Regions from separate parts of the Homo sapiens genome. Here region 2 is linked to region 1. A link means that fine-mapping ties the variant in region 1 to the expression of a gene that starts in the linked region. Tissue or cell type: whole blood. Region 1 holds a variant in brackets; the other region holds the start of a gene. All regions are shown on one strand. Distances are between the middles of the regions.

The links.
Region 2: it holds the start of SYK, and the variant in region 1 is fine-mapped to the expression of SYK in whole blood (TOPMed, PIP above 0.99).

Annotation. Positions count from the first base shown.
Region 1 is chr9:90,769,834-90,786,561 of GRCh38, reverse strand. No RefSeq gene overlaps it. Among named protein-coding and RNA genes, the nearest start is that of SYK, 24 kb to the left of the region's middle. RefSeq lists an enhancer at 11,796-11,855. The variant A/G (reference allele first, on the strand shown) is at 8,499.
Region 2 is chr9:90,794,058-90,808,031 of GRCh38, reverse strand. It overlaps SYK (spleen associated tyrosine kinase), which reads right to left and starts at 6,213. Exons shown (of 14, transcript NM_003177.7): 1 at 6,139-6,213. RefSeq lists silencers at 6,075-6,234, 6,255-6,464 and an enhancer at 12,929-13,098.

The DNA.
Region 1 (16,728 bases):
TGGGATTACAGACGCCCGCCAGCATGCCTGGCTAATTTTTTTGTATTTTTAGTGGAGACGGGGTTTCACTATGTTTGCCAGGCTGGTCTCAAACTCCTGACCTCGTGATCTCCCCATCTTGGCCTCCCACAGTGCTGGGATTACAGGCGTGAGCCATAGCACCTGGCCACCTTTTCACATTTAATTATTTGTAATCCATTTGGGATTTTGTTTGGTCATAAGGAGCAAGATAGAGATTCTATTTCTTTTTCCCTAGTGGTTAGTCAGTTTATCCAACAATCCATCTTCTCCTCACTGATTGGTACTTAAGCTTTATCAAATGCCAGATTGCTTAAACACCTGGGTTTAGTTCTGGTGTTTCTTTTGCTTTTCATTGATCTATCTAATATCCAATAGGATGTTGCTGCTTTAATTACTACAGCTTTGTAATTTTGCTTCATTATAATTTTTTTTTTCAGGATTTGAGAAACTCTGAGGGCAAAAGCTTCTCCCCTCACAAGATGAGATTTTAACTTTTATTATCAGTACACATAGAAAATACGTATGTGTATGGATTCATAGACAACAGATTCTCTGATTCAGTTTTGAGAATAACTCAAACCCACCAATCATTGATTGGCACCATGTTGGGGGATTCACGCTTCTATTTTGAGAGTGGGATGGATAGCACTCAGCATCTCAGTGTGTGCATCATCACTGGTGCACAAGTCCCCTCCAGATGTCAGCTTTGCTCTGGGACTGGTTTGCTCCATCCCTGGGGGCAGAGGTACATCCAGCAATTTTGCTCCGGGGTCCTGTCTCTAGGATAGAAGAGGTTTTAGAATCTCTAAGTTACAGTTTTGGAGAACTCCAATATTTATAAAGTTCTTTCACACGTTTTACTTCCTAAGACATCTCTCTCTCTCTCTTTGTGTGTGTGGGTTAAAGCTGCTTTCTGAAGTTAAGACTTTGTCCTTTATTGTCACACAGTTTAGGTGTTTGGAGACTACTATTACCAGCATGGCAAAGTGGCCTACAGCACTGACCGTGGAGCCAGATTTGGTTCAACTCCCAAGTTTATAACCTACTAGCTGTGTGACTTTGTGCAAGTTACTGAGCCTCTCTGGGCCTTGGTTTCCTGATGTGTAATAGACTCTCCCTCTTGCATCTGGGCTGCCCTATTACTGCTTTGACCAAGAGAGTGTGGCAGAAGTGACGGCATTTTTATTTTAAGCCTAGCCTTTTAGAGGATGGACAGCTTAGGTCTTGGTCTCTTGGAACCCTGAACTGCCATGTAAGAACTCCAAAGATTGCTGGAGAGGCCAAAGGGTGGGGCAGAGTTGGAGGTGCAAAGCTGAGCCCAGTCTTCCCCAATCTTTGCCAAGGCTGTGTTAACAGCCTGAAAGCCAGCTGAGTGCCTAGTTAATGCCATGTGAAGCAGAAGAATCACCTAGCTGAGCTCCGCCTGAGCTTCTGAGTCACAAAATCGTGAGATATTTAAGAATGATTGTTGTTTCAAGGCACCAGGTTTTGGGGTAATATGTTACATAGCTTACCTAGTAATAGCTAACCAGAACAGGTAGTGGTGTGAGGTTGTGCCTAGGGCCAACTTCATAATCTGTGGGGCCCAGTACAAAATAAAAAATGGATCCTGGTTCAAAAAGCAAAATAAAATGGCCATTAAAGGTATTAAAATATAAAACCTTTTTTCTCTTCTGTTGTCTCTTTCAAGATGTCAGTGTTTTTTTAAATTTGCTATTGAATGTCATTCTAACTAAATAAAAATAGAAATTATAAATTATTAATACGGACTTTACCATTTATCTTTACATAGAATTTGTTATGCCAGTTTTAAATGTAAACATAAAAACATTGGACTCGTATGCGGAATCACCAAAATTACACAATTTGCACTTTGTAGTTCTTATGTGCTTATATAGTTCATTCTTTACGAGAACAGTGGTGATGCTGCACAAAACAAACTCAGTCATTTCTATTTCACTTCTTGCTATGTGCACAAGCACCAGCACCCTCTCAGCACCAGCAGTCTGCAGGCAGAGTCTGCCATTAAAGGGGTCGTGACTACCTTGGGAAATACACTGTGGTCCATTAAAGGGGTCGTGACTACCTTGGGAAATACACTGTGGTCCAGAGCACACCAGGCACCAGGAATCGTGACCTTTTATCTGGATGCAGGAAAGAGAAATGATCTTTGAGGTCCAGGGTGCATATTGGAGTGGCGTAATAGGAGCTAGGGGGAGAGAAGTTATCATCCTTCTTGTGGGTGTTAAAGAAACATCCAAATTAGGATGGCAGTCACGTGTATATTTCACATTCCGCGGCTATTTTCATGGCCTTACTGGGAAATGTGCCTGGGAATTAGATTTTCTTATACACGTGTCAAGCCCTGGGAGTGTTATTTGAAAGCGTGCTATTTCTTTATGAAATTTAATACTTTTGTCCTTGGAAAATGTCTGAGATATTGCTGACCAAGGATGTTTTTAGTATACAGCTGATAACACTGTTATTGTTGTACTCTGATACATCTCGATAGCAAGCCAAATTAACATGACATTCTGCACCTTTACGATCTACCATCTAACTTTCCTAGATAAATTCTGAGAAATAAAAATAAAATTCTAAGTCCCCTAACTAACTGAATGGACTCCCTCTTTGTCCAAGGAGCCTCAGAGAAGCCTTAAAAACTGAGTTGCCAGCCATGCCAGGCACACAGGAGGTGGGACACGCCTTGTTATGCCACCTCCCTTACTGCCATCAATCTTCCTTCTCTAACAGACAGAAACCAGCTCTTTTGAAAGACTCGCTTCACCTCTGATTTACACAACAACTGACTGGCATTCCTTCCTGATAAAAGACCACTGGCCGTAGACTGGCTCTGGCAGGTATTCACAGGCTGCAGACAACATGCCCCTGTGTCCTTGCTTTCACTTTGTGACATACAGAGTGAAATTATAATGCAATTAAATGTAAGTCTTCACCCCAAATGAATATGAGATGAATGTAACATGGATGTTTGCTTGCTATGAATGTGTGCACCCCCTTCATAATTATTCTCAGCCCTTCCTATAACTATTGAATATGTATACTTAGCTAGCCCATTCAGCCCAAATTTCTGTCTCACCTTTCCCTCTTTCAAAGTGCCTGCTTTTGGTTTCTACCAGAAGCTATGCTTCCCAGCCTGCACAGTGGGCAGCCTGCTGGATGCAAGCCTTTATAAGAAATAACACTCTCCTCTCCAAATTTATGAATCTCATGATTCTTTAGTTAACAATTACCCAAGCCAGATACTTCTTACTTGATGAATATTTCTTAGGTGAAGAGCAGCTGAACTTTAATACAAAATTCACATATTTATTTGTCTTTAAAACACTGTGTAATTGGCTGGGTGCAGTGGCTCACACCTGTAATCTCAGCACTTTGGGAGGCTGAGGTGGGCAGATCACCTGAGGTCAAGAGTTTGAGACCAGCCTGACCAACATAGAGAAATCTCGTCTCTACTAAAAATACAAAATTAGCCGGGTGTGGTGGTACATATCTGTAATCCCAGCTACTCGGGAGGCTGAGGCAGGAGAATCGCTTGAACCCAGGAGGTGGAGGTTGTGGTGAGTGGAGACTGTGCCATTGCACGCTAGCCTGGGCAACAAGAGCGAAACTCCATCTCAAAACAAACAAACAAACAAACAAAAAAACATGGTCTAATCCATTCTACAGCACATTTCTACAATCATCAAAAGTGGAAGCTCAATATGGAGAAACAGAGACATACCTGCAAAAATTTTTGTATACAGTTTTTTCAAGATCTCAGCTTTCCAATATAAAACATACATACTTTATGTTGACAAAACAATGAGAAATTGTCCTTACATCTCTCTGCCAACTGCATCTTCTTCCAACATCTATTATATATGCAATGTCTACTGAGCATTATGCAGGCCTAAGCTCTGGGGGTGCAGGACAGGCAAGGTCTCTATTTTGCAGAAGCAAACAGTTTAGCAGGCAGATAGGCAATCAACAGTAAACTGATAAATATGTGATATGTAAAGGCATGTTTAATAAGAGCCCTTTCTTTTGAAACAGGACACAATTGCAGGTGCTGGTTATTATACCAAGGCTTTGACTAGAATAACATTATTAGGTGAAGCTCCAGCAAAGTCAACTTGAAAAGAGTCTCTATGGCCAACTGTAAAAAGTAAAGTAGAGGTTCCTCTTCAAAGACTTTCCTCCCCGTCTAATTAGGAATAAATAGTAACTTCTCTTAGAAGCAAAATTTATTCAAAGACCTGTGCTAACATTCTTAAATATCTGCTAGCCATAATAAAAAAATCAATATACAATTTATGTTCCTAGCTCCCACAATTTAGCCTAAATATTTGCCCTGGCATGCTTATACTGGTCCAAGCAAGCATTAGGTCATAGCCTGTTCCTCTTCCTTATTTAAAAGTGTTTTTACCTTTCTCAGCCTTCCACTAGTTACTTCCTCCTTCCTTTGTTCCCCTCTACCTTTGCCTCTTTTAAAAAGTTCTAAGTTGCTAGCCAATCAGGACAAATACAGAATGCGAGCTCTTGTTCCAGCCAATGGAAACTGGACACAACAGTAGGGTGGACACGTCAGGTTATAAATGACCCTGTCTCCTTTGTTCAGTGTACTCTCATGGCAAAACTGCTGGCGAGTGTACCCTTTCTGCAGGAAGTAAAAGTGGCCTTACTAAATAAATTAAATTTATGTTCAAGTGCTATTTCTTTATGGCACCAAAGAACAAGCATTTCAAACCAAGTAATTCCTGCTGCGCTTTATGTGAATAATCAAGCCAAGTGTAATAAGCCAAAAACTTATTCTGCACACAAATTGGTCTTACTATAATTTCTCTTTAGTAGAAAAGGAGGGCTAGAGAATCAGAGAAAAATTGTTTCAAGGGAAAACTGTAACACCCGTTACTGAATTCCAGCCCCGACTTGTTTTAGAGTGCAGATCGAATTACATCTCTTCCTACAATAATCCTCTAAAAAGTACCAGCTTATAATTTTCTTCATGTTTTTAGTTGTTGCCCTAATGAAATAGTTTCCTTTTTCTGTTCTGACACACAGATTCTGTTTTGATTAGCAAGTTTACTAATGTTATTTATCTCATGTAGTTTTACTTCTGAGAAAATTAGAATCATATATTCATAAGACTAGAGATAATTTGACAAAGCCTGTGAATCTCCCTCATTTGGAATCCCACCGGGCCCCATCTGTCTTTCATTGCAAATGCCCTGCTGCTAAAACTATACAAGCACCCTCCCTCTAGGCCCAGGGACTATCACGTAAGACGTCAGTGTGTGAGATTGCAAGGGCCAGTTTTGTGGGATAGAATTAGTTTAGAGCCTCCAAATCACAGATACCTAAACAGCTGGTAAAATAAGGGACTGTGCCTCCTGTGTTATTATGTATGTGGCACCCTTTTGTCCATCCTAACCGTAAAGAATTTCCTGCTTCCCATAGAATTAAAAGAAAATTACTGAGAGGATATAAAGACACTTTGTGACAAAGCTTGCTGGGTATAATACTCCCAGTTATGAGATTTATGCATATATATATATTTTATTTATTTATTTATTTATTTATTTATTTTTGAGACAGAGTCTAGCTCTGTCACCCAGGCTGGACTGCAATGGTACAATGTTGGCTCACTGCAACCTCTGCCTCCCAGGTTCAAGCAATTCTCCTCCCAAGTAGCTGGGATTACAGGCACTCACCACCATGCCTGGCTAATTTTTGTATTTTTAGTAGAGATGGGGTTTCACCATGTTGGTCAGGCTGGTCTTGAACTCCTGACCTCGTGATCCACCCACCTCGGCCTCCAAAAGTGCTGGGATTACAGGCATGAGCCACCACGCCCGGCCTATATATATATATTTAACGTTTATTATCAGCCGTCTTGGGACAAATTAGTAAAATACTGCAAAAATCATTGAGGCACAGCAAAAGTCTCTGAATTCCTTAGCTTAAAAGGCTTTAATAGTGCTTATGTTTTGTATAGCTAATTGCAATAAGTCTGTAACTAAAACCAAGATCACAGTAGCTCAACATATAGAATTGAGAGGTAGATAAGTCAATTTGTAACCTTGTCTTTGGCTTTTTGTTTGTAGGCTCTTGCATTACTGAAAAAATGTTTTAAGGACTAGCGAACACCTGTCTACATCCATCCCTGTCTGGCCTAGAACGTTTACATTGGCTATGCATCTTTTGGCTCTAAGTCCCTTGGCCATAGGCGTCCCACTGAGGGACAGGAGGGACCCAGAGCAGACAGCCATGCCACTTTGGCAATGCTATGGGACACAGTGAAAGTTTGGTGTCCATTGATGTTGCTTCTGGCAAATCTTGGCCAGAAGAGGGAGAATGTATAACAAATACAAAATTCTAAGCCCCCAATCAGGACCCCTTCTCTCAGCCAAGGGCATTCTAAAGTTAACCTGAAAAACTAGTTCAATCCATGATGGAAGTAGGGGTTTGGTGGGAAGAGGGTGTTGAACATGTCTCACAGCTGACCAGAATTAACATCAACACAGAGACCTGAAGACTGGTAGACTCTTTAAGTCTGAGAAGAAACACTTACAATCTATTCTCTTTGAAGCCCTGCTACCTGGAGGCTTCATCTGCATGATAAACCTTGGCATTCACAAACCCTTATCATAACCCAGATTTCTTTCTATTGATTCCAGGTCTTAAGATATTAACTCCCCCAACCATTTGCCAATCAGAAAATCTTTGAATCTGCTTATGACCTGGAAGCCCCTGCTTTTGAGACTGAACCAATGTACATCTTAAATGTATTGATTAATGTCTTAGGTTTCCCTAAATGTATAAAACCACCTTGGGCACAAGTCCTCAGGATGTCCTGAGGGCTGTGTCATGGACCATTGGTTGCCCATATTTAGCTCATAATAAAATATTAAATATTTTACAGAGTTTGACTCTTTTTGTTTGGATTGGTAACCATCACTGTGATCAAGACATAGAGAATTTCCATCATCTAAGAAATTGTCCCCTTGCAGCCAGTCCCCAATCCCCTAGAGCCTATTAAAAAATACAAAAAAAAAAAAACAAAAAAACTTAACCAAGTGTGGTGGCACATGCCTGTAGTCCCAGCTACTTGGGAGGCTGAGGTGGGAGAATAGCTTGAACCTGGAAGGCAGAGGTTGCAGTGAACTGAGACCACGCCATTGCACTCCAGCCTGGCTGACAGTGAGACTCTGTCTCAAAAAAAAAAAAAAATTGATTTCTGTCATCTGAGATTCGTTTTCTCTGTTCTTGAACTTTATTTAAATGAGATCCTTACATTTATGTAGTTTTTTTTTACGTCTCCCAAGGCTCTGTCATTCACATTTATGTACTCTTGTGTGTCCAGTTTCATCTGCTCAACTTCATGGTTTTAAGATTCAGCCATGCTGTTTATTTATTTTTTGTTGATTGTGATAACTGTGACTTATAATAAGAAATACACTGTATTTGGTCTTGTCCCTGTTTTCTGGCGTACAGCTCCTATCTGCCTTGGAATCTCCAAAATGGTAAATGCCTTTTTGTATGCTAAGGAGATGACTGATGGGGGATGGGGAGCTCCTAGATAGCCTCAGGATGGGGCTGGTTGCCATGGGAACCAATCATGTGATTAGCAGCTTGGAACTCTCAGCCCCAAGTGGACTTCTGGGGAGAAGAGTGGGGCTGAAGTCTGACTTGATCACCAAGGGCCCATACATTAATCAATTATGCGTATGTAATGAAACATTACAATGAAACATTCACAAAAACCCAAAAAGACAAGACTTGGAGTTTCTGAATTGGTGAACAATGGAGAGTGGTGCCCCAGGAGTGGCAATGGAAGCTCTGCGCTTCTTCTCACATACATTGCACTATGCATCTCTTCCATCTGAGTATTTATCTGTATCCTTTCTAGTATCCTCCATAATAAATGGGTAAATGTGAGTAAAGTGTTCCCCTGAGTTCTGTCAGCTGTCCTAGCAAATTATCTAACCTGAGGAGGGGGAATCCTTATATATTTATTTATTTATTTATTTATTTATTTATTTTTGAGACAGAGTCTCCCTCTGTCACCAGGCTGGAGTGCAGTGGCGCGATCTCGGTTCACTGCTACCTCCGCCTCCTGGGTTCAAGTGATTCTCCTGCCTCAGCTTCCCGAGTAGCTGGGACTACAGGCATGCGCCACCACGCCCAGCTAATTTTGTGTGTGTGTGTAATTTAGTAGAGACAGGGTTTCACCATGTTGGCCAGGATGGTCTCCATCTCCTGACCTCGTGATCTGCCCGCCTCTGTCTCCCAAAGTGCTGGGATTACAGGCATGAGCCACCGCACCCGGCTGAAAATCCTGATTTATAACTGGCTAGAAGTGCAGGTCACAACCTGGGGCTTGGGTCTGGCATCTAAACGGGGAAGAGTTTTGTGACACTAAGCCCTCAACCTCTGTGATCTGATGCTATCTCCAGGTAGATAGTATCGGATTA[A/G]AACTGAGTGGAAGGACACCCCGCTGTCCTTTGATGACCAGAAGTGTTCTGTACTGAGTATGGTAGGAGAAAAACTGTTCGTTTGTTTTTTTCAACTGTAATTATACAGAGATATATATTTATTTGTTTGTTGTTCTGTTGATGGATATTTGAGCTATGTCTAGTTTTTTTTTTTTCTGTTTTGAATAGGGCTGCTATGAATATTCTTGTGTGAGTCTTTTTTGTGGACTTACATTTTAATTCCTCTTGGATAAGTTCCTAGGATCTAAGAGTAGAATTCCTGAGTTATAGAGCAGATGGCTGTCTGGGAAAATGCCAAGAAGGTTCCAAAGGGGTTGTATCATTTTGTGTACAAGATTTGTGCAGTGTATGAGAGCTCCAGTTGCTTCACATCCTTGCCGACACTTGATGTTATCTGACTATCTTTTAGTGAGGGGATGGTGATATCTCACTGTGGTCTTAGTTGTCCTGATGACCAATGATGTTGAACATATTTTTATGTGCTTATGAACTCTTTTCTGTTATTTTTTATGAAGTGTTTGTCCAATATTTTGCCCATTAAAAATTAGATTGTCTTTTGATTATTAATTTGTAGAACTATAAAAGATATATTCTGGATTGAAGTCATTTGTCTGATACATATTTGGCAAATATTTTCTCCTAATCTACTGCTACCTTTTTCATTTTCTTATCATTGTCTTTTGATAAGCAGAAGTTAATTTTGATTAAATGAAATGGAACAATTTTCTTATTTTTAGATGAGTGCTGTTTTTTACCAGCCTGAGAACACTTTGCCTACCACATTAGATATTCTCTTATTATTTTGAGAAATTTTATTGCTTTTATGTGTAATAGAACTCTGATGCATCTTGAATTAATTTTTTGTATAGTGTAAAATAGGAAGTGAGTTATTAATTTTCTACACAAATATCCAGTTGTTTCAGCACTATTTCTTGAAAGGACTTTCCTTTTCCCTTTTTCATTGCTTTGATGCTTTTGTCAAAAATCTTGTAATTGTATACATGTGGGTCTACTTCTGGAATTTCTATTCTGTTTAATTATCTATTCATCCTTACACCAATACCATACTGTCTTGATTACCATACTACATTAAGACTTGAAATTAGGTATTTATTTCCCTATTTTATTTTTCAAGACTGTTTGGGTTATTGTAGGTCTTTTTCATTTCCATATAAATATTAAAAAATTAGCTTGTTAATTTCTACAAACAAGCCCTCTTTGGATTTTGGTTGGTATTGTATTGAATATATAGGTAAATTTGGGGAGAAATGATACTTTAACAATAGTGAATCTTTCCATCTATGAACATAGTATAACTCTCCATTAATTTAGGTCCTTTTTAATTTCTTTTAGTGATGTTTTATAGTTTTCAGTGTACAGGTCTTACACATCTTTACTTATTTCTAAGTATTTTATATTATTATAAAATGGTATGTGGTTTTTTTGTAAGTTTCATTTACCATTTTTTATTGATATTATATAAGTATGCAATTGAAATTTATATATTTACTTCGTATCCTGAGACCTTAGTAAGTTCACTTTTGTGTTATAGTGGTTTCTTTGTAAATTCCTTAGTTTTTTTTATGTAAACAGTCCTGTCATCTGCAAATGGAGGAAGTTTTATTTTCCTTTTCCAGCTTTATATTTTTTATTTAATTATTTATTTTTCTTGCCTTATAGCAATGCCTAGAACTTCCAGTACAACCTTGAGTAGAACTGGTGGATGTGAACATTTCTACCTCCTTTTTCATCTTAGGGAAAAGTGTTCATGTCACCATCAGTATGACACAGGCTATAAGTTTTCTATAGATGCTCCTTATTGGGTTGATAAAGTATCCTATTTCCTTATTGTTAAGTGCAATTTCTCCAAGAGTCTTTGAGGTCTCTTTTCAGTTGAAGGACTTTTAAAATGCCAATAAATTCAAAAAGCATTATTTCACAAACAGTGCTAATTATGTTCTGTTCTCTAAGCATCAACTCATTTAAATCTGAAATAAGGTCAGGGTGCTATTCTTTACATTTTCTGGCAGAGGAAACTGAGGCACAGGTTGGCAGAAAAGGTTCTCAAGATCAGACATCTAGGAAGTGGCAGAGCCAGACAGTCTGGCTCCTGAGATCATAGGCTAGGCTGCCCCTATATCCTTACGCACGTGGTTACTGTAAATCACTTCTGCCATCACTTGACCATCTGAAAGTAGCAGATGCTACTGAAAAACACCTTCTTTTTCGGGGTGGGGAAGGGATGACTGCTGAGGGTTTTAGTAGGAGTATATTTCTACAGCATGGTTACAGCATCCTACATTGCAGAAATGTAAGTTGACCTAAACTATGTATTCATACATGTGATTTCTCTTTTATTTCCTCAGAATATTAAAAAAATGAGGATACTGATTTTATTCCTCAAAAGAAGTTTAAGTCTTGCTTTTAGTTAGTAGCTACCTCCATAGCTTTCCATAAAATATATATTTTCCTTAACTCAAGAGATAAGAAAGCAACTGTCTTCATGACCCAAAGCAGTATCTTTTCAAACGTTGTATTTGGCAAGATAAACATATTTAGTTTTTATAATCTCTACAGTGTATGTTCTTTGCGCTTTTCCAGTATAATACTATATATTTTATATACAGCAACAGAAATTGGCATGCATATTTTTATATGCATCAATATGTGTATGTGAATTTATACATATACTCTGTCCATACGTGTATTTCGTTTAGGTGTGAAATAGTAACAATGGCTCCTATTTCCTCAGTGTCCACTTTGTGTAGGCAACCAGGGGCTTTATATTTTCTGTCTTTAATTCTTACAAAAATTTTGCAAAATAAGTATTGTCACTCGCATGATCCAATGAGAATTTGGAGACAGGAAAGATTAATCACTCCATTGAAGGAATACCGGTAGTAAGTAGTGAAGCTGGGATTATTTCTGGAATTTCAATCCAAACCCATTAGTGGTGGCGATTTGAATGATTCTTGCACAATGGCCCTAGTGCTGTGTGGCTGTCCAGAAGGAAGGACACAGGAAGGACAAGCGCTGGTGTTGAGGCAACGTGTGGGCAACCCTTGCTAGCACATGTGTTGTTTGGTGGCATGAGGTTCTCAGTTAATATGAACCACACCTGCTCAAGCTTGTTTACTGGAGGCACTGCTCCCTCAGCAGGATCTAATGGGAATGCCCTCATTTGGTTTTGGTCACAGTCCTGAGAGTGTGACAAACCACATAAAAGGGGAACCAGGCCTCCTACCAGGTGCCCAAGGGTGTTGCAGACCAGGGCCACCTCTTTTCTTCGATGTGAGTGCTGAGAAGACTTGCTTAGCATGTGCTGCTCAAAAAATACTTGGGAGTGAATGAATAGAAAAATGGACAAATGGACTTTTCTATGGTTCAGTCATTAATAGCCCCTGCCCTCGAGCCTACCGCCCCAGCCCAGCTGCTCATGGCCTATGGAATTTCCTCCTCACTTTGACAGTTGCACTAGCTTCACATGGCCTTTTGGGAATAGCACCTGTGCTACCCTCCAGGTGAACTGCTCTGTAGGGGGCAAATGTGAGCAAAGCGTTAGGCCCAGCCCACAGGGAATGTTTCCTTGTGTGGGGCAGTGGGGTAGGCCAGGCGCAGTGTCCAGGACACATGTCCACTGAGATGGGTTGTGACTGGGGGATGGAGCTAAAGATGCTCATGAAAGCCCAGGATGCCTTGGGGACAGTGGGAGGTTTGGCCTGGGATGACTCCCCTCCTCATCCCTAGGCAGACATGTGACTTTGGGTCCCTATGTCAAGTCCTGAGAGTTTTCAGTTTCTGCATCTGCAAGGAGGAAGTTGGAGCAATAATAACCAACATTTGTTAGAACACGAAGTGTCACATACTCTGCTTACAACTTGATGTGCATTTTATTCTTTAATCTTTGGATAAGTGGCCCCAGGGATTATCGCATCTCACATATGAGAAACTGATGCTTAGAGGGGTTGACAACTTGCCCAAGATGGCACAGCTAGTACCAGCACAACGTGAGCCTGACTCCAAACCCACACTTCCTATGTGACCCTCACCATCCCGATAGTTCCAAGTGCACTTCTGACCTCCTGATTTTGCCCCTGGAGAGTGAGAGACTTTGCAACTGTAACAACCTCACTTCACCTTTTATGCAAATCTCATGTATAATTTTCATAAACTTTATTTTTTTAAAATGTAATTCCCCAGAGGCCTTCCCTACCTGACTTGGCCTTGGATGGGCAGCAGAGGGCAATGTAGTCTCAGGGAGGCACCCTCCCTTCCCCTGGGCTGGGAACTGTGAAAATCTAACCACTGCTAGCAAAAACCAGTCTCAGCTGGAAATGGTCTAATCTTCTTGGAGGGGATGTTGGAGAATACATAGCAATAGATTCAGATGAAATCCTGTCTCAGTAGGCACACTTAGAATATTGTTCCTTGGATGGCATTAGAAAGGGAATCTTTTTTTTTTTTTTTGTAATATAGAGTTCTCATTTTATTCCATGCATGAAAAGAAGAGATAAAGGTTTTGTGCTTTTCCTCGCCTCTATTAATAGAAGTTATTAACATGCCTATAATAGAAACCATTTCACCTTCGCTGGAACTGATGATGATGCTTCATGATAGCACAGTGGTGCCCTGTTGCCAAGTATTAGATATGGTCCAATGTCTCAAAAATTACCAGTCAAACGGATTTGTGAGTGTCACAGGTTGTTTTTAAGATCTTTATAATTATTATTTTTAGACTTGGTATCTTTTATATCCATACACTGCTAGGATTCAGATCTGAAAGTCAGATTGCCCTAATAAACTAGTAGGGGCTCCTTGGGTGACAAAGCCACTCTGACAGTGACTTCATTGGCTGTTCATTGGCCACATACCCTCGCCTGGTTCTCTGAAGAGACATCACATCGCAGGATGTGATGAACACTAGTTTTTATTTTCTTAGCAATATTTCATTAATTCTTGGTGTGTCGTAGTGAATAAATTACTGTCAACATCTTTTGAGCACCCAACATGCCAGAGCATTTCTAAACAAAGGCAATTGACAAAAGATGTAGAATACAAATGTTTGAGCGCTTAAGGGCTGGGTGCTTTTTAAGTGCTTTATCTGTATGACTGTGTTATGTCCTCACAACAGCCCTACAGGTATTATCATCATCCCCGTTTTACAGATGGGAAAACTCACCCAGAGGTGCTACGGAACTTGCGCAAGATCACAGAGCTATGAGAGCAGAGCAGGGAAGCAGCCCCGGATGGGCGGATTTCAAAGTCTGCACTCTCCATTCCTACTCCTTCCTGCTTCTCAGTGTCAGCAAGAGCAAATCTCATGAGCTCTAGAGCATCCTGGCAACCTTCTGGGAGGGATGCTCTTTACCTTGATCTATCTATGTTGGGTTCCAGAATCTTCTCCCTAAATGTAAATGTAACAGGAACTGTTGGTGACTCACTCACACCCCTCTGGCCTGGGGGGTTCTATCTGAGTTGCAACTTCTTCTTTGCCTGAGGACATTCTCCTAAGCCTCAGGAGGCCTCTCTGCCCATGTCCAGGGTGGTTTGAGTGCTAGGGAATTAATAGCCCTGGCAGCCCTCCACCAATGACTGACAGGCCGGTGTCTGAATGTCCCAGCTCCCTCATCCTTCAGGAAGAAGCACAGATTTTTCTGCAGTTTCCTTGTGCTCCAGCGGCTCACAAATGCGCTGCCTTCCCTTCCTGGTCTCACCTTCCCCTCCTGGTCCCATGTCCCTGCTCCCTTGCTGGGGTACCTTGCACCTGCCAAATAAATTCTTTCTACTGGGATCTCAAATCTGCGTCTGCTTCTGAAAAAGCCAAGGTAGAAGGGATGAAAGTGTCCACATTTAACAGTAACTTGGGACTTCCTGAAGATATCCAAGGATTTTTTGGGAAAGACTGAATTTACATTCTGAAATGAGAGCTGGCATCAGTTAAATGAACATACTAATTAAAAAGCTCCCCTTGGCAGGGAGCTGGTTCTTCCTTCTTGTCATGATGGTTAGGGGAGTGGGGTCTGGGTCGCCTCTTCTCGTGACCTAAGTGCTTTGTGATCACTTACATGGCTTGCCCACTTCCCTCTTCAGTGCCTGGTTCTGGATCCTGGTAGCACCTTCATCTGTGCTTGTGGCCAGGAATGGGCATTGCTGCTACAGCCATGGCCCCACCCTGCACACATGGATCTACCTTCTCTTCTTTGTGGCCCACCTTCCTGGCTCAGGGACGCTGCTTCTGCTTGAATTCCAAATGGAAAATGGATGCTCCCCTTGGAGACTGCTTTTCTGTGTAGCAGAGAGCACATTGTTTATACTAACAGTAAATCCATGGATTCTGTCTTCTAATAACAGGTTGGTTATTTACAATGTGCCAGGCATTATTAGAAGTGCTTTGCTTATATTAATTAGATTGTCATAAAACTCTGTGAAGTATGTGCTATTATTTTCTTCATTTTACAGATAAACTGAGGGACAGAGAATTCAAACAACTTGGCCCAAGCTATACATTGAGTAAATGGTACTATCTTGTGTCAGATCCAGATTTGTAATGGAGGAAACCAAAATATTTCACCTCCAAATATCCTTCTTTGACATATTTTGAGGTGGCTGTTCAGAGGGCCTGCAAACAGAGGTAGCCTTGCAAAGCTGTCCTTTGCGGGGAGATTTGCATCTGTACAGAATCAGCATGGTGCAGCCAGGTTTTCTCTGAGGCTAACCCTTGTCCAGATCAAGAAAAGATTAACAGAGTCTGACACCTTAAATTTCTGAAATAAACATTTACCATCTATTCTCTCTGAGGACTGCTACCTGTAAGGTTTCACCTGTATAATAAGACCACATTTGCAAGCCAGACCTCCTCTTCTCTTCCTCCCATAACCTGCCTTGACATCATAACCTGATTTACCACCGCAACCAGTTTTTGGCCGTACTCCAAGCCCACATTTTTTCTGTAACCTTAAGCTGTGTATAGGCTGGATGTGGTGACTCCTGCCTATAATCCCAGCACTTTGGGAGGCCAAGGCAGGAGGATCACTTGAGGCCAGGAGTTCAAGTTCAAGGCAACATAGCGAGACCCCCATCTCTACAAAAAGTGAAAAGAATTAGCCAGCCATGGTGGCACAGGCCTACAGTTCCAGCTACTCAGGAGGCTGAGGCGGGATTGCTTGAAGGACTGCTTGAGCCCAGGAGTTTGAGGCTACAGTAACCATGATCCTGCCATTGCACTACAGCCTGGGCAAGAGAGTGAGACCCTATATCAAAAGCCTTTAAAAAGATAGTGTAAAAGTCTCAACCTCCTTACCATTTCTTGGAGATCTTTGTAAGATTCCTGTGCACATTAATAAATATGTGTGCCTTTTCTCCAATTAATCTGTCTCTTGTCAGTTGATTTTCAGTGACCCTTCCAAGGGCAAAGAGGAAGTTTCCCCTTGGCACCCACAGGAACAACTGCCCCTCACTACCTTCTGCTTCACAGTTTCAAATGACTGGCCACTCACCAAAAGGCAGAAGAGGTTCATGAGTTCCTCTTTTTCTCATTTGCACTTGACCTCTTTCTCATAACACACATCCAGCCATGTCTTCTACATATTTTTTTCCCCAGTAAAACATCTGTGACTCATAGTTGTAAAAAATCAAATGAAATAGTAAAAATGTTTTAAAAGTACATCTCAGGGCTGCTTCCCTTAGAGGCTGCTGCTGCGCAACACTAAAGGACATACATGAAGGTGTGAGAGAGCAGCGTGACATGTGTCCCATGGTCCCCATGGTTTATACACTTGGTTTTCCAGAAAGCATCTCTGGTCAGCACAGATGCAGAATTTCTGGTTCAGTGCAGTTGGCTGAGCACTTGTGCTTAATGCCCCACCCACAAGAGACCCCATTGAAAACGATTTTGAAAGAGGGAACAAAATGTCACTGCAGACACCACTGGAGGTGAGGTGGCAGGTGGGATTTCACTTCGGGCCAGATTGAAGACTGGTTGAAACAGGGAAGAGGCATGCCTACCAGCACCATGATGGTTTACGACTGCCGTGCCAACACCTGGAAGTTACCACTTCTGTTCTAGAAATTTCTGAGTAACCCACCCCTTAATTTGCATGTAATTAAAAGTATGTATAAATATAACTGGAGAACTGCCTCTGAACTGCTACTCAAACACACGGCCTTTGAGGTATCCTGGTTCTGCAGAGGCAGTCACAGAGCTGTAACA
Region 2 (13,974 bases), 23 kb before region 1:
AATTACAATAATCACTGAATATGGAGACCTCCCCGCACCCCAACATATTAATAAAAAGAAAGTTCCAGAGTGATAAAGGTATTAAGAAGACATACACAGCCCACCATTATATCTTCTGAAGACGTGCACACATGCACACATGAATGCACAGGACGAAAGAAGAGAGGTTAGAGCTCCAACTGCTCCCCAACAGTGGGACTGGGGGCAGGGCTGGGACTGAGGGTGGAGGTTAAGAAGGGCTTTTCTGTTGCTCGCTGTATCTGAATCCTGTACTAAAGGATATGTACTCGTGTATCAGTTATGCAATGGACAACTTTCCTAAAAGAAAATATTAGAAAGTTCTCCCATCTTGGAGGTCAGAGAAACTAACTTTGGCAATTGTAGTTGCTCATCAAACCTATCTGGACGTGCCTTCCCTCCAAGACTGCAGGGCAGATTCCCAGAGTCAGCCCGCCTGGGAGAGGCTCTGACAGTTATGTCAGTTTTAACCACATACCAGGTACCGAGCACTGCAGGCACGGTCTCCATTAGGTATCAGAGTGAAGCCCCCTGTGACTGCTCCATTTACAAAAGAAGAGCTTACAAATAAAGAAGGGGGACTTGAACCCAGTGGGGCCTCAGACCCTTACTCTCAACCCGTAGCTACAAAAATATTCGATAAATGTCACTTTGAGGCAGTGTATCCACCACATAATTCATATATTGTTAGCATTTAAGATGAAAACAACCACAACATTCTGCCTCTACCAAGCAAAGCCTAAGGAGCTTGGTAAGGAGCAGCAAGAGGTCATGCATGGTTTCCCAAAGAGGCTGTGGCAGAGCCAGCCCTGAAAGCCACTCTAAGAACAAACGCACTGCAGGGTCATGGAAGTGTAGGACCACTGGCTGAGACTGACTCTCTCAGAGAATCTCTGTGCATGTTACCTGCACAAAGGCTCTGAAGATGCCCATGATATTTATCCCTGCTTGCTGCACTTTATTTCATTCAGCATTTCTCATGCTTACTTACTTGAGCAAGCTTCCCAGGGAATTCCACTTAGCACTGCAGTTCCACTTCAGGAATCAATCAAGGAAATCGAGGAGAAGGCCAGCAATCTGCTTAAAGTCTCATGAGATCTCCATTTCCACAAAAATAAACATTCTCATCACTCAGATAATAAAATGTTGGTGTCGTATATAATACAAAAGTGACATTGACACTGATGTAAAACATAGATGCTAACTGTTAAAGTGGAGTTAAAAACCATCTCTCACTAAGCATGATTCAGAATGCACCCTGATGGAAGAAATCATAAAAGTTCTATACTACAATAAATAAATAACCATAGAATTAAAAAGCTCTGGAGAAATATTTTCAATAATTATGACAGTGGATTTACAACAGGTAAAATGTAGGTGAGTGTTAACAAGAGGCATATTAATGCCACAGATGTTACAACAAAGAGTATGATAAGCAATTTACATAAAACATATTTAGTCAACAAATATTCCCCATAGGGCTGGGCACAGTGGATCATGCCTATAATCCCAGCACTTTGGGAGGCTGAGGCAAGAGGATTGCTTGGGCCCAGGAGTTTGAGACTAGCCTGGGCAATATAGTGAGAGCCCATCTCTACAAAAAAGAAAAAGAAAAAAAAAAAAGAAAAGTCCCACACCAAATATCCTCCAAACATTCTTCAGGTATTACTGTATGTATAGCAAGACTGAAGAGCAACTGTTAGACAAGAAGAAGATGGAGGGTTCTAGAAAAAAAGAAAGAAAAATGGAACCGTGAGATTACTTGGTATATCTGACACTGTAGAAAATTGTGTCAATAGGGCTTTCATCTTTATGTCAGAAAGTTGGGAAGGAAATGATAATAGGCACAGTGCAAACTAAGAAAACACAAAAACAAAGCAAGGGTTTACCCCAGGAAGAGCAAAAAGGGGTACGAGATAGAAAATGGAATGATATACCTTGCTTTAGCAGTAAACTATATTTATATAACCATAATAAAATAAACCAAATAACTTCTTAATCTCAAATGAGAGAATAATTATCCTGGGATGGTGTGAGAAGGAGTAGAAGGTGATGGTGGTCTAAAACTCCAAAGTCCTGAATTCTCAGTGTCAACAAACACTGTTTAAAATTAGTACACCAAAAAACTTTGAAAATATGCCAATCATAAGGAAATAGTGAGAATTCTAGAGGACATAACTCAAAGCAGTACCAAAGGATGGGCAGAATGAAAAGAGGAACTCATTACAAATTAAAATTAAACAAAAAGAGAAATTAACTTAGGTCACACCAAAACATTTTCATGTCAACTCAACAGGAACTGATAGATGTAATATTAATAAACTACCAGGTTGACCATGGGAAAATAAAGATTTATCAGTTAAGACAAACCAATGGAGGGGAGAAATGAAAGGTCATATGTTGAACATTCAAATGCTACTTATAGTCAGGCAGAGTATACTTAAGTAAAGCAATATTTAAACTGTGGATATTCCTAAATCTCTGCCCTGGGCCCTCCTTCTGTTGAATTTACTTTCTCTCCCTAGTTCACAGTATCCAGGTCGAGAGCCTCCCTCACCCTGCTCGGTAGACCTGCAGCTTGCCTGCAAGGTTTTCACTCAGGTCAAGACATCTCTCATCTGCATCCCAGGCTAAAAGCCCACTGTCTCCTCACACTTATGCTCCCTTCCAGCGCTCCAGGACAGCAGTAACTGGAAGCGCCTCTCCAGCTCAGAGCCAGGATCCCAGTTTCAGAGCTAGACACCTCTGAGCAGAGGACCAGAAAGCTCACAGTACTCCTCAGTAATCCAGTAATCATCAACATTCTTAACTGTCCTCGCTTGCTCCACCACCATCTGCCTTTGGCCAGCTGCCAGAAATCAATACGTGGTGTCCCAGAAAGAAAAGAATCAAGGGAGCCATTTGGATTTATTAAATGTACTGTAACATAAACAAAATATTCTTTCTTTGCATATCTTTGGTCTTGGCTAAATTCAACTGTCTTTAAGATTCCAGTTTAACCACCTTTTAAGAGATGTAGGGCAAACCTTGCACAATTGATTCATAAAGGAAAAAAAAACCTCAAATTGATACAAGCTAATATTGGTCAGATAAAATTATAAGCAAATAGAAAATGTCCCTGATAACATCATATCAAAATGAATGAACTTTCCTAAAATCCAATCAGACTAGTTCTTAAAACATCTTCCCACAATCCCTCAGTAGAAAACCCTTTTTTCCTAGTATTCAAATCCAACCTGTTCAAATCTAAGTAGAAGAGGAAGGTGATAAGACACAAATGAGGCAATTTGATCATAATCTCTCATTAGGACTCTGCCTTCTGATTTTAGTTGCTTTAGAAGAAAAAGTAATGCTCAATGTGTAGACTTCTAAAACAAAACAAATTCTTCCCCAAAGGCCTAAATTCCTGTTGTTGTTGTTGTTTTCTCCACCCAGTTATAGCTAAACCAATCCAGAAGTAGTGGAAAATGTTAAAACCAGCAAAGCAAGAGTAGAAAAGTCAGGGGGTAGCTGGAAAAAAATCTATACAGGGAAAGTTGAGAAAGTAAAAATTAGCCATCACTTAGGCTTAGATAACTGACACAAACCCAGCTGGTTGCAAAGTTAACAGGAAATAATATTTCTTCCATGGACAGACTGCAGCTGTAAAGGGTGACAGTAACCCCTCCTGTAAGTAACTTCTGCTCTGTTTCTCTAAAATGGTAGACTGTCAGAAACTATGCTGTTTGAAATTATATTACAAAGATGAGACATCCACTCTTACTTGAAGTACCTCTATTTTGATCGGTATGATTGAAAATTCAGTAAAATCTTGCTATTTAAGACTCCCTAAAGAGAGAGGAACTGCCCTTCTAATTACTGGAAAGTGTGAAGTATTGAACAACATAAATGCACTTTCCTTTTAAAAGCAAACCGTAGTTCAGTGGAGTCTAATACAGACTCAGTCCCTCAGCTGCAGCTCTAAAAAGCTCTGAAAAACAACACTTTTTTTTTTTTTGGTAAGTCTTAGAGAAGCTCTCGTAGTGATAACACCTGCTCTAAACAGACACACAGCTCTTTATAGTCTTTATTTATTCCACTTAGTGAGAATATTCATGTTCTTAAATGTAAAAGTACAGAAATATTAATGCATGGAATTACAGGATTCTCTCCAGACTATATTGGAATGGCATGTAACCAGCAGGGTCAACATGTATGTTTACCTTTCTAAATTCTGAGCAATGTCTTTCTCAGTTCTGAAATTTAGATTCTAAATTTTAATTCCAAATTCTGAAAAAGCTTGAATTCCAAAATACGTCTTGGCACAAGCATATTGGATTATAACCATGGGCAAACAATGTGCTAAATAAGTGAAGTTCTACTAAGAAGTCTTCCATTAAAAAAAAGCAGAGAGATTAGACCTGCATTTAGAATATTAAATAGGGGCCTAACAAAGATCAGGGTGATTCATTTCTAAAGTGAAATCTAGCAATAAAATAACGTTTCTACCAATTTCATCTCTCAGGAAAGATAAAGACCTAAAGTATACACCCCATTTTTATCCTAGCTTAAAACTTTCTAGTTATTAAGACTATTATAAAATCCTATTTTATATTTCACTTCAAATACAGAGGCTTAAAAAAAAATCTTCCCACAATCCCTCAGTAGAAAAATCTCTTTTTTCCTAGTGTTCAAATCCAACCTTTTCAAATCCAAGGTAGAAGAGTAAGAGGATAAGACACAAATCAAGTAATTTGATTATAATCTCTCATTCAAATACACTTTAAAGTGCACTTCAAATACAGGGGATAATACAAATCAATTTCTGTTTTAATGCAAGAGTTTTCTAAATACGTTAAAACAAAAGTGCCGTTCAGAACAAAAATGATTTGATAAAATAATTTCAACTGACAAAGATTTCTCACTTAAAACACTTAATAATTTACATGTATTTAAGCCTTTTTGAGAAAATATAATTCTATCTATGCACTGCTCGGACTTTCACTGGGGAGAAGGAGGACATCAATGTATTTAGTTGCATTTAATTAAAATGCTGCCTGTGTGAAGGCAATGAATTTGTCCCTACTAAGACAAAGAAGTCAGATGGTAGAATCAATTCCATTTCTTCCAGGAACTCTTAGGGATTAAATGGTTCCTTTTTTTATTTTTAATACCAAGAATCAGATATGGCACAACATCTTCAACTCTTTTTTTTTTTTACTACACGCTGCAATGCTTTGAACTCTACTTGAGTTCGACTGAATCTTTGCTAAGTCAGGCAAAACTCAAAAAATATTTTGCAACACTGTTTCCAACGTAAAAAAAGATTCAAACTCTCACTTCTCCAATTGTCTTTCTAGTCCTTGAACATTCCAACAAAAGAATGGATTGCATTTATATAGTTTTTAGGTGGGCTTAAGGTTTTGGAGCCACATTGCCAAAAACAGACAAACAGACAAAAAGAAACACCCTTAACTCTTAACTCAAATTTACATTTTACTACATAAAACTTTCTTGCTCTCCAAGTTCATTGGCTAAGTAAATTACTTGACAATGAAAATGTATCCACAAGAGTAATTATGCTAAATTTTAGTAGTGGTTCAGAAGGGTTGTTGTTTGAATGCAACTGCTGTTTCTTTTTGTAGTAAAAGATTTGTCTAAGCTCATAAGACGTCTGGACATTTCTACTTTGAGTAACTTTGATAAACACTGCGGCATTTTCCAGTGGATTCGTGTAAATGGCCAAAGGAAAATGTTCTAGCTCCAAGATCGACTTCCTCGCGCTGTGCCTGATCCCAATCCCGCGTCTCCCGAGGGCCGGGCCGCGACCGCACTTTCCGCGCTCCCTGGGGGCCTGGGCGCCCTGGGGTGCCCGGGTCACTTTCCGCACGGTCTGACCTCCGTCCCCTCCGCCCAGGCCTGAGCCCCTCTCTCCCGGCGCAGCTTCTGGATCCCGAGCGCGGGTAGGTTCAGGAGCGAAGCTGGCGGAACCCACCTGTATTTTATTCACATGGTTTCAGCACTTTTACCTCGGCCGATGAAGGTAGAACAAGAAAGGGCATGAAAGCAGCGCGTCGTTCCCCGTAACCTCCTCTCCTTACCAGAAAGTCCCGGCCGGGTAGGGGACGCGGCCACACCTACCTGCGCCAGGTGAGGCGAGGGCGGGCGCAGCGCGGGGCCACCCGCTCCTCCTCGCTCTCCAGCCGCCGCCGGGGTGGCCTCAGCCGCCGGGCCCGCGGCTCTTCCTCATTTTGGGCAACTTCCTTAACGCGCCCGGGCAGGCGGCCCGCACTTCCTCCCAGTGTCGCGCCCCGCCGCCCTGGCCCGCCCTGCTGACCGCGCCCATGAGCCCGGAGCTGGGCGGGAATCGGCTGAAGCGCCGGGCGAGGCCCGCGGAATCGGCCCAGGCGGCGGCAGGTGTAGAGGAGCCCGGGTGGGGCGCGCCTCTCTCCTCCCGCCGGACAAGGGCCCTTCGCAGGCAGAGAAGGTGGGGCTGCCCGGGACATGGACCGCATCGGTCCCCCTCCTCCCCGCCAGCGCGGTGGCTTCTGTGACTGCCCAGGACCCACAGACACCCAGCGGCCCTTTCCTTTTGCTATGCAGTGCCGGGGAAGAGACTCCACTGCATGGCATATTCCCTGGAGTGTATCTTGGTCACCAAACCAACAAGCTCCAAGCTACTGTGCTGGAGCACTCGGGAGGCCTGGGCAGTGCTGAGAGGGACCCTGTAGGTGAACACCAGACTTCACGGCGCACTAGTGGGCAATGGGGCACGCTGCTTCTGAAGGCTTTAATTATTACAAAAGGCTTTGCTTCCTTCTTACCATGACGGCTCTGACGTCCACAACCAAATAAATTAAACCTATAGCCCTAAGAATGGTTTTGAGATACCCGCCTGATACCCTTCTCCCAACCCATCCCCCTTTTCCTTTTGGACATTCCTCTTTAAAATGTTCCCACAAAACGGCATCCAGACCTTCTTGATAACACTGGTTGGCAGTGCCTGTTTTAAAAAGCTTTACCCTAAGCCAAAATGCGAGAAGCAAAAAAATATATATATAATGTGCTGGATTGTAATTGCCATGGAGAAAATATAGGGATGGGACTATTTACACTTATTGGAGCCCCCAGCCTTTTCTGCTTCCAGGGTTATTGGATTTTCATTCATTTTTGCCATTATTTTTTCTAAACCTGTTAAAAGAAAACTTCAGCAGAATTAAATTTAAAGCAGTTTAATTGAGTAATGAATGATTTGCGAATGGGGCAGCTTCCAGAATCACAGCGGATTCAGAGACTCCAGGGATGCCTCATGGTCAGAACATATTTATAGACAAAAAAAGGGAAGTGACATACAGAAATTGGAGGTAAGGCAGAGAAACAACTGGATTGGTTACAGGTTGGCTTTTGCCTTCTTTGAACACAGTTTGAACACTCAGCAGTGTATGAATGGTTGAAGTATGGCCACTGGGATTGGCCAAGACTCAGCTATTGTTAAAGGCACATACTCCTAAATTAGGTTTTCAATCTTGTCTGCCTATTAAGCTAGGTTACAGTTCATCCACAAGGACTCAAATATAGAATACAGAGTCCTTCTCAGATCATACTTAGGTTGCTTTAACAAACATAAATGGAAGATTTTGATAATGGTTATATTTGCTTATCATTGGACTTAATTTTGCTTCAACTACCCGAAAAAATAGCCATTGTTCCTGAGATGGAGCCTGCAGAATGTCTACAGATGGTTTTCAGAGTTGTCAGCATTATTGGAGATGAACACTAGGGGACCAGTGTGTACAAAGCAAACCCAGCCTGCACAAAGATTGCAGTTTTCTCAGGCTTTCACCTGATGGAAATGAGGGGGAAATTCTAGATCCATCTACAACCTCCTTCCTTTACACTGCTGTGTTCCTTTCCCCCTTTGAGTCACCTTCCGCATTACTTAGTATCATGTAGTAATTTTTTTTTTTTTTGAGACGGAGCCTCACTCTGTTGCCCAGGCTGGAGTACAGTGGCCCGATCATCTCAGCTCACCGCAAGCTCTGCCTCCTGGGCTCACGCCATTCTCCTGCCTCAGCCTCCCGAGTAGCTGGGACTATAGGCGCCCGCCACCATGCCCGGCTAATTTTTTGTATTTTTAGTAGAGACGGGGTTTCACCGTGTTCGCCAGGATGGTCTCGATCTCCTGACCTCGTGATCTGCCTGCCTTGGCCTCCCAAAATGCTGGGATTACAGGCGTGAGCCACCATGCCTAGCCTAAAAGATGGTTCACATTATGTATCATCAGGGAAATGCAAATGAAGACAGTAAGATATCAGTATGGCCCAAATTCGGAACACTGACCGCAGTGAACACTAGTGAGGATGTGAAGCAATAGAAATACTCATTCATTGCTGTTGTGAATGCAAGATGGTACAGCCACTGTGGAAGACAGTTTGGCAGTTTCTTATGAAACTAAACATCCTCTTACAACATGAGTAATTATAAGAGGATTGTCCTTCTTGGTATTTACCCAAAGTAGTTGGTATTTACCTAAAGTAGTACCCAGTAATTGTGCTTCTTGGTATTTACCCAAAGGAGTTCAAACCTTATGTTCACACAAAAATCTGCACACAAATGTTTACGCTGGCTTTATTTACTAAGTTTATTGCCAAAACTTGGACACAAACAAGATGTCATTCAGTAAGTGAATGGATATATAAACTCTTGTACATCAGTGTAATGGAATATTGTTCCACACTAAAATGAAATGCACTAGCAAGTTATGAAAAGAAATGGATGAAATCTAAATGCATATTACCAAGTGAAAGAAGCCCTCTGAAAAGGCTACATACTGTATAATTTCAACAGGTGATATTCTGGAAAGAGCCAAACTATCTGGATAGTAAAAAGATCAGTGGCTGCCATGGGCTGGTGGGGAGGGCAGGATGAATAGAAGGAGAACAGAGATTTTTTAGGGCTGTGAAAGTATGCTGTATGATATTACAATGGTGGATACACAGCACTATACATTTGTTAAACACCATACAATATACAACACCAAGAGGGAACATCAGTGTAAACTTCAGGCTTTGGGTGATTATGATGTGTCAAAGTAGGTTCATCAATTGTAACAAATGTACCAGTCTGATGGGGCTGTTGATAATGGGAAAGGCTGTGCATGTGTGAGGTCAGTGGGTATATGGGAAACCTCGGTACCTGCCTCTCATTTTTACTGTGAACCTAAAACTGCTCTAAAAAATAGTGTTTAATTTAAAAAAATAGTTTTTTTGGTAACAGTGGCAAGTATTCCTAATAGGCAATCCCTTAAAAGAATAAAAGCACAAAGGAAATAGAAACATCCCAAATTTCAGACATAATCATCATTACCGTTAGGTGACCCTTACAAAATTATCTCTTTCTATATGTACACATGGCAATAGATATAAAAATGGGCATCATTTTAAATATAATACATTTATTATACATTTTATCCATGTTAAATATGATATTTAATTCTACTTAAATTTAACAGAATAAAAAATTCTGAAATGGGATCTAAAGAATTGCTGATTTTATAGAAATGATTCTTTGCCACAAATGTATCATTTCTGAAATGACCCCACTTTGATTAAAGGAAAAGAAAAGTGACAATAATAAGCAGTTTTCGTCATTTCTTCTAAACCATGAGCTTTAATTTCAGACAGTATCAGTAACTCTGCTATGATACATGAACCAATTACCTCTCTCACTCCACTTCACTTCAGCTCACCTCTCACGTTTCCCTAGTTATATGAGTTTTACATAGTTAAGTTTAAAATTTTTGATTTCTGTAACCATAAACCCTCAGTGGTCTCTTCTTAGTTCTCCATTTAAAAGGATACCTTATGCACCTCCAGACCTTTCTACCACCATATCTCATTCCTACTTTCTTTGTTGATGAGCTGGATGGACTCTGTGAAGATGTGATCCCACATACTGCATCTATCAATGCTCTCCACTTTCAGGATGTTATTCTGTTGCTGTTGTATTGCAGTGACATCAAGGTGGGCACATTGTGTCTCCATCCTACTTCCCTTTGGCCTAGACTCGGTTGATTTTCCTCCCTTGCCCCTTTGGCATTGAATGTTGTTTTGGAGAAATGTGAGAACAGCCAGTCCTTTGTCCTCTTTTAGGTGACTTGCTCTTCTTTCCAGGCTGCTGGAGGAAACTTTCTTTAACTGAGATATTAAGAAACTTGACAAGGATATATACTGATACAGATCAACCAGCATCTTTTATTTCTTTTTCTTTTTTTGAGATGGAGTTTCACTCTTGTTGCCCAGGCTGGTGTGCAATGGCGTGATCTTGGCTCACTGCAACCTCTGCCTCCCAGGTTCAAGCAATTCTCCTGCCTCAGCCTCCTGAGCAGCTGGGATTACAGGCGCCCGCCACCAAGCCCAGCTAATTTTTTGTATTTTTAGTAGAGACAGAGTTTCACCATGTTGGCCAGGCTGGTCTCGAACTCCTGACCTCAGGTGATCATCCTGCCTTGGCCTCCCAAAGTGATGGCAGGAGTCACCACACCCGGCCATCTTTTATTTCTTAAACACAATGCACTCTTTAATGCACATCATAATCACCCAAAGCCCAAAGTTTGCATTGAGGTTCCCTCTTGGTGTTGTATATTGTATGGTGTTTAACAAATATATAATGCTGTGTATCCACCATTGTAATGCGCAGATTTAGATCTTCATTCAAAGAATTTTTTCTTGTGTGATTTTAAATACCTTTTTATTTGTTAAGTGCTTTTCTTCAAGGATATTAATTAACTTTTTATCATCTAAGTCTATTATCTTTTCTCTGATTGTAGTAATCTACTTTGTTTTTTCTTCCTGGTTCACAGTGATTTTCTCTCTCTCCCTTTCTTTTTTTTCGGGAACTAAATGTTTAGCTGGGTCTGCTTTATTTCTTGTTATTTCTAATTTACCTGTAGGTAGGTTTATTGGTCCTCAAATTATTTCTTTGTCTCTGGTTCTCTCTATCTCACTCTTTTTAGTTATTTTCTCTTGGTTATTCAATCGGTTCTTGAGTTTTTTAAAAAATTGAATGCAGGCTCTTATCAAATTTTGTAGCCTGTGCACTTAAAAATTCTTTCAGACTGGATTTTATTTTTAATTTGTGCATGTTATTTTCTTTTAAGGTTTGCATAGCTGCTAGTTCATTGATTTCATCTTGTCCATACTTGGCAGCTTTCTTCAGACTTTCACTTTGCTCTGCCCCTTTGTGTGTGGCAGCTCCTAAATCCTCATGTCAGAGCCTTTTCTTACCCCTTTTCTGGATTACATATGACGGCTTAATATTCCTTTTGAGCTTGATTTTCTATAACCTTTGAGCGTGGGAATGGTGGGGGTGGGCTTAGCTGGAGTTGTGTTGCACAAACTGGGCCCCTCCTTCCAATGTGAGACTGTGAGGAACATGCAGGCTTCGCACTTCATTGAGGGAGGGAGAAGGCTGAGCTTACTCTGTCCAGCGAGGTTGGGGGCATCTGTGAGTTTCAGCTCATTCCCCCAATTAATGTGGGTCGTTGGAGTCCTCACACTCTGACAAAATCATGCCACATTGCTGCTATTTCCTTTTGCACTAATCTCCACTGCAGCCATTTTCACTACTCCACAGTCAAAAATGAGAAAAACTAAGGATAAACAATGGCCCCTTCTTCTCTCAAGATCTGAGTGAGAATTGTTCAGGATTTTGTAGACGCACAATATATGGTTTCTGGGAGGTTGGAGTGTGGCCTCATTGTGATACTCTCAAACTTCTGGTTTTTATATGAGCCAGCGCTTTTCAAAGTGCATTTTGTTAAGCGGTTCTCCTTTTCTTGTTTGGTTACCACTTGTAACTTTAGCACTTTTGTTTCTTCCCGCTTCCCTTTTTTCTTGAGGTAGAAAGATGAGGAAAGTAAGGATTCTTTTCTTCTAGATGGTGAGGCCTTGATATTCTGTAAATGTTTCACTATGTTCTTTCAGAATGTAATGGCCCACATGTTTTTTACTATAGAATATACGCTGTACTTTTTTTTTTTTGTGACAGGGTCTTACTCTGTCACTCAGACTGGAGTGCAGTGGCGCAATCACAGCTCACTGCAGCCTTGGCTTCCCCAGCTCAAGTGATTCCCCCACCTCAGCCTCCTGAGTAGCTGGGACTTTTTGTATTTTTAGTAGAGATGGGGTTTTACTACGTTGCCAGGCTGGTCTCAAACTCCTGGACTCATGTGATTGCACATTTTAATATTTAGAATGTAAGGTCCTCATTTTTGTCTCTTCTAAATTAAAAAAATACACAAGTTACACATGATATATCTGTTAAGGTGCTTTAGGTTGCAAGTAAAATAATAACCAACTCCATGTATTGAAATAATACACTTTTATTGACACACAAAGGAGAATATTGCATAGTTAGGACAGCATCAGGTGTATTTTTATGCATATTACATTAAATTTAGATAAAATTAATTATTTTCATATGTAGGTATACCTTTAAAAAAAAAGTAACAACCCTATTGTGTCCTATGAAGGGAAGTTAATTTTGATAGACCAGCATGATGGAGGTGAGTGGCTTCTCTCAGTGATTTTCACCTTCTGATCACATTCATCCAGTTGCTGAAATGACACAGGATGTAGCCAGAGGAACAACTTCCTTCTGCTGGTATTCCCTAACCAATTCAACCAGATATAAAAGTGACTTTTCACCTACAAATGGTAAACTTCCTCATTTTTCTTTTGTTAGTAATCTTTTGAACAAACAAAACAGAAAAGTTACTTAAAGACCAAAGATAGTGTCTGAAGTGTGATCACATGTGTTTAAACCCAGCGGTAGGTGCACTGGCCACGGGTCAGGAAGCACGGGCCATAGTAGTCTCAGCTCTGCTACTTTTTGTAGGTGTGCAGCTCTGAGCAAGTCAAGTTTCCTCTGTGTACCTGATTCCTTATTTTTTTGTGAAATTCCAGGGAGCAAACAATTCAATAATTGAATTAGGGTCCTTTACTTGCCAGACATGACCCAAGCCACTGGAGATTCAAAAGGATGGAAAAAACTTATGCTCAAAAATAACTCCTCCCTTTCATCTATTTCAATGGGTAGCTAATCATTTGCTTAACAGAGTACTCTTTTAAAATATAATTATATAATTAGAAGGTAGTTCAGCTGTTATTTTTCACTGTAGTGAAAATTAGATGGTTTTTCTCATACCAAGATCTTTTCATTCTTTTTCTTTTTTATATTTTTCAAAGTGCGGTTCCATTTTTAAGTTTTCAAAAGATATAATTCACATAACATCCAGTTTACTTGTTGAAAGTATACAATTAAATTGTTTTAAGTGTATTCACAAAGTTGTACAACCATCATCACTATCAATATTAGAACTTTTTTAAGCACTTTTTTTCTTTTTTGTGAAGAATGGGGTCTCTTTATATTGCCCAGGCAGGTCTCAAACTCCTGGGCTCACACTATACTCCTGCCACTGCATCCTTAAGTGCTAGGATTACAGATGTGAGCCACTGCACCTGGAAGAACTTTTTTAAACCACAAAACAAAACCCCATACCCATATCACTTCTCATGCTTCCCATCCCACACAATCCTTTCCCTCCTCCCCATCCAAGGCCCTAGGAAAACCTCCCATCTACTTTTTGTCTCTGTAGACATGCCTATTCTGGACATTTCATATAAATTGCATGATGTAATATGTGCTCTTTGTGACTGGCTTATTTACTTAGCATAATGTTTTCATTCATGTTATAGCATACATCAGTGTTTTACATTTTTAGTACCAAATAATATTCCATTGTATGGATAGGCCACATTTTATTTATCCACTCATCGGTTTCTGCTCTTTGGCTACTATAAATAATTTTGCATCAACCATTCCTATACAAGTTTTTGTGTGGGTGTATATTTTCCTTTTTTCTTGAATATATAACTAGGAGTGGAATTGCTGAGTGATATAGTAAATCTATGTTTG